Linked DNA regions of Homo sapiens: region 2 is linked to region 1. Evidence: fine-mapped expression QTL. Tissue or cell type: whole blood. Region 1 holds a variant in brackets; the other region holds the start of a gene. All regions are shown on one strand. Distances are from middle to middle.

Region 1 (2,500 bases):
CCTCGTTCTCTCAGTACCTTCATGCCTTCTTCCCACTCTGCAGTCTGGGCTGGATGTCTGTCCTCTGCCTCCTTAAATTCTGTATATACTTCTGTCATAATACTGTAGAAGTATAACATAACACTTGACTCATCACTATCCTTTCCTAGACTGACTCTTCGGAGGCAACATTTCCATCTTTCATTTCTTTCTTCCATTGTTGGTATGGTAGTAGCATGTAGTTATTCAGTCATAGGTTGAAGAATAAATATATAGGTTGACTGATACCATAAATGTGCACTGAAATATGCTAAGACTGTAACTTTTTGGCCTTGCTGGCTTTTGTGATAATCTCATGATCTGTGTATGTAAACATGAAGCATATAACACTGGGGAATTATGGATTCTTAGTCTTTGAGTAACTTGTTTTAGTATTAGCCATCATTTCTTTTATAAAAGCTAGATGTTCTCTATTACTTTTCTGCTCATCACTTTATACTTATCAATTGAATAATTATGTTTTCCTATTAGTGTTCATATTTTGGTTTTTCTGTTTTCTTCTGTTTACAAGTTGTTCTCGAATTTCAAGGAATCCTTGAATGTTAGAATGTACAAACATAATTAAAGAGTAACCAATTTTTAAATTTCTTTAGATGCACATAAGCAACATAACCAAGAAAATGGTTGCAGAGGAGACAGTGATACCTTGGGAGCGCTACATGATCTAGCCAACAGGTAAAACAAATTTGATTTTCTTTTGTTAAACATTAAAAAACTCTTATTTTATAAAAAATAGAGATGGAACTGAGAGGTGAAGCCAGCTGGACTTCTGGGTCTGTTGGGGAGTTGGAGAACTTTTCTGTATTACAAGAGGATTGTAAAAACGCACCAATCACTGGATGTAGTGGCTCACTCCTGTAATCCTAGCACTTTGGGAGGCTGAGGTGGGAAGATCGCTTGAGCCCAGGAGTTCTAGACCAGTACAGGCATAGCAAGACCCTGTCTGTACTAAAAGGAAAAACAAAAGGTGTGGTCTTTCTGGGTTGCAGAGGCTAGTCTTTAACTCTTGGCCTCAAGTGATCCTCCTGCCGGGGCCTCCCAAAGTGCTGGGATTATGGTCATAACCTCCTGTGCCTGACCCAAATTTGATTTTTATATTGATTTTTTTATATATTAATTTTATTCCCATCTTAAACCAGTTTCCAATCTTATTTACTCTGGGATAGTGCATAATTTTGCCTTTTGTTTTTTTTTGAAATGGAGTCTTGCTCTTGTTTCCTAGGCTGGAGTGCAATGGCACGATTTTGGCTCACTGCAACATCCCCGCCTCCTGGGTTCAAATAGTTCCCCTCCTGGGTTCAGGCTACCTCCTAAGTAGCTGGCATTACAAGCGCCTGCCACCACACTTGGGTAATTTTTGTATTTTTAGTAGAGATGAGGTTTCACCATGTTGGCCAGGCTGGTCT[C/T]GAACTCCTGATCTCAGGTGATCTACCCGCCTTGGCCTCCCAAAGTGCTGTGATTACAGATGTGAGCCACCGCACCCGGCCAATTTTGCCCTTTTAACTGGACAATATTTTTCTACCATAGACCCACATTTTCAGAAAAGATCCAACATTTATGATACATGGGCATTTTTTCCTCTTCTATTCTTTATCTAAATATTGAGTTTCATGGGGATTATTTGGAAATTATCTAATGCAAATTTGAGAGTTTTTGCCTTTTTATGTATGTGAACTTTTTTGAAACTAAGTTCAAGTGTTTGGGGGCCTTTGAGATCATCTTGTCCAGATAGTTTTCAGACTACATCCTATAGTGCCATTTGGTGCTGTGGATGTATCTAACATAACCCGTGGCTGGTCCAGCCTTTTCCCACTTTAGCCTTGGGCAACTTGCTCTTTTATATATGTTATATATTGTGGTGTTTGGTAAACTATTCGATAAGAAGAGTTCCATGCTTAAAAAAAAATTGGACAACTTCTGATTTACTATAACCACCAGATTTAACATATGAAAAAACTGGATTTTGTTCTAACTTCCTCCAGTAATATTCCTATTTTCTTTATTGCCTTTTTTTTTCTCTATTATCCCATTTTGGACTAATTACAGATTATATGAGCAAAAAATCTGTGAACTAAATGTATGTAATCCGATTGGGGAACATATTAGTTCTTCATTGAAATTAAACATTATTAAGTAGCAATCAAACACGAAACTTTCCTTTATTAGTTTTTTTTTTTTTAATTGTTTTTTAACCTAAATAGGTGTCTTTCATTACAACTTCCCCAAGTAGATGAGGGACAGATGAAAATAAAATACTTAGGAAAATTATAAAGGAAAATCCTAAATTTTAAATGAAGCACTCATCATTCTATGCCATCTTAGTAAGTTAATAAGCTGTAACACTAACCAGAGTTAAAACTTTTTTTGTAAAATTGAGTTATTGGTAATTGGTTCTGCAGTAATCTAGTTCACAGGCAGTCAGGACTAGTTGTGGAAGAACCATATTTTAGTCTATCTGGAT
Region 2 (2,673 bases), 34 kb before region 1:
CAAAAGGTGCTTTTAGGCTGGGCACGGTGGCTCATTCCTTGGGAGGTCAAGGTGGGCAGGTCGCTTGAGCCCAGGAGTTCGAGCCCAGCCTGGGCAACTTAGTGGCTTTTCTTTCTTTCTCTCTCTCTCTCTCCTCTTTTTTTTTTTTTTTTTTGAGACAGAGTCTCACTTTGTCGCCCAGGCTGGAATGCAGTGGAAGGATCTTGGCTCACTGCAACGTCTGCCTCCCGGGTTCAAGCGATTCTTCTGCCTCAGCCTCCCGAGTAGCTGAGCTGGGATTACAGGCATGCGCTACCACGCCCGGCTAATTTTGTATTTTTAGTAGAGACGGGGTTTCTACATGTTGGTCAGGCTGGTCTCGAACTCCCCACCTCAGGTGATCCGCCCACCTTGGCCTCCCAAAGTGCTGGGATTATAGGCGTGAGCCACTGTGCCCCGCCTCTCTCTCTTTTATTAAGGTGATTTTAGTGAGGCAGGAGACAATCATTGCCAGAGGTAGCAATGAGACTTAAAAGCAGGTTACCCAATCCACTTCCAGGCCCTGTTGTCAGTGGGGTTTGTGGTAGGCAACAGCTGTCAATTAAGACGACGGGCCGGGTGCGGTGGCTCACGCCTATAATCCCAGCACTTCGGGAGGCCGAGGAGGGCGGATCACGAGGTCAGGAGATCGAGACCATCCTGGCTAACAGGGTGAAACCCCGTCTCTACTAAAAATACAAAAAATTAGCCCGGCGTGGTGGTGGGAGCCTGTAGTCCCAGCTACTCGGGAGGCTGAGGCAGGAGAATGGCGTGAACCTGGGAGGCGGAGCTTGCAGTGAGCCGAGATTGCGCCACTGCACTCCAGCCTGGGAGACAGAGCTAGACTCCGTCTCAAAAAAAAAAAAAAAAAAAAAAAAAAAATTAAGAGGACTGCAGGCGGCCAGGCGCAGTGGCTCACGCCTGTAATCCCAGCACTTTGGGAGGCCAAGACCGGCAGATAACCTGAGGTCAGGAGTTCGAGACCAGCCAGCCAACATGGTGAAACCCCGTCTCCATTAAAAATACAAAAAAATTAGCCGGGCGTGGTGGCGGACACCTGTTAATCCCAGCTACTCGGGAGGCTGAGGCAGGAGAATCGCTTGAACCCGGGAGGCGGAGGTTGCAGTGAGCCGAAATCGCGTCACTGCACCCCAACTTGAGCAACAAGAGCGAAACCCCGTCTCAAAAAAAAAAAAAAAAAAAAAAAAGACTGCAGGACTGCAGGGGAGTATAGAGCCAGATTTCATTTAAAGCAGGAAAAGGAACATCCGGCATTTGAGGACATAGATTTCGCTAACGACAGAAATGAGGCTCAGAGATTACGTGACTTGATTAGAGTCACAGTGAGCATAGCGGAGGATGGAACCAATGCTTTAACTCTACACCGAGGCATAGTGCTCCATTTATGGCTTTTTTGTGACGTAACAACTAGGATACACAAGCAAATGGACCCCACTAACCAAGAATCAGAAACCCGAAGGCCCGAGGATCTGGGCACGACAGCGGTTAAGCAAGCGCAGAGCAAGTCGCTGGCCGCGCAATGCCCGGTGGGTCTTGCAGTTTCTTGGCTGGGCATGGCCGGAAGGGAGGAGAGAAGGACGCATTGCATGGCGGGAGATATAGTCTTTGCCGGAAGTCCCTCCTCCCTCGGACGCCTGGCGGCGCCGGCGCACACTGCTCTTCCTTAAGGGCGGGAGTCTCGGTTTGTGGTGGCTTCGCTGAGGCAGTGGTGGCCGCACTATACCGTTAGAAACTCAATTTCCCGGAGGTTGTGAGGCCCTTTGAGGCGAAATCGCTCTGGGCGTGAAAGGAGCAGGCGTTGGCAATGGAAGGACCACCGCGACCTCAGGCTGACCGTAGGGAGGGATCTTGAGGGCCCTCCGAGTCCCCTGGGCTTGCGCTTTCTTTCTTTGCAGCCACCGTGCCTACCGCGAGGATGAGCTCGGCCTCGGTCACCGCTTTCGAGAAGGAGCATCTCTGGATGTATCTGCAGGCGCTCGGCTTCGAGCCAGGCCCGGCAACCATTGCCTGCGGAAAGATCGTGTCGCACACGCACCTCGGAGTGTAAGGAGGCCGGGGCCGGCGGGGCGAGGGAGCCTGAACCGGGGGACGCCGGGGGACTCCCCCTTTTGTAGACCCCGGAGGTTGATTAATCAGAATTGGTTGAGCAGTTACTCTGTGCCAGGCATTGGCTCCAAAGTTCCTACTCCCAGTTGCTGCCAGCCTAGGGGCAGAGACAGACAGTAAATAATGCAAGAGTGCCGGAAGCGCTCTGTAGGGGAGTGCAAAAGTCTGCAGATGGGGAGAGTGCAAGACTGGAGGAGCAGCTTAACTCTGCCTATGTGGTGGAGGGGTGGTCTGTGAAGTAGTGGGAGGGATGGCGGGTGGTAGTGGAAGAGCATGGGAACCATATGTACAAAACACCTTTTGGACTCAAGGGAGCCTTTGAAGGTGGTTGTTTAATTTTATAATTTTTAATTTTTTAATTAGTAAGGCATGTTGGAGTTAGCATAAAACAACGGAGAAGGGTATTAAAAACAAATACCCTTTTAAGAAAAGTATGGAAAGTAAAAGCCCCTTCCCTACTTTTTCCACTTCTGTTTTATCAACTTTAGCCAGTATCTCTATTTAATCATTCCCACTGTAGGCCAAGAG

Evidence for each region. PIP is the estimated chance that this variant, and not a neighbour inherited with it, causes the effect.
Region 2: it holds the start of HAUS6, and the variant in region 1 is fine-mapped to the expression of HAUS6 in whole blood (TOPMed, PIP above 0.99). The same link has a PIP of 0.9 or more in T cells, lymphoblastoid cells and thyroid.

The regions. Positions count from the first base shown.
Region 1 is chr9:19,068,433-19,070,932 of GRCh38, reverse strand. It overlaps HAUS6 (HAUS augmin like complex subunit 6), which reads left to right. Exons shown (of 17, transcript NM_017645.5): 12 at 633-714. Among named protein-coding and RNA genes, the nearest start is that of RRAGA, 20 kb to the right of the region's middle. The variant C/T (reference allele first, on the strand shown) is at 1,446.
Region 2 is chr9:19,101,933-19,104,605 of GRCh38, reverse strand. It overlaps HAUS6 (HAUS augmin like complex subunit 6), which reads left to right and starts at 1,702. Exons shown (of 17, transcript NM_017645.5): 1 at 1,702-2,082. The coding sequence starts at 1,955. RefSeq lists an enhancer at 1,460-2,023.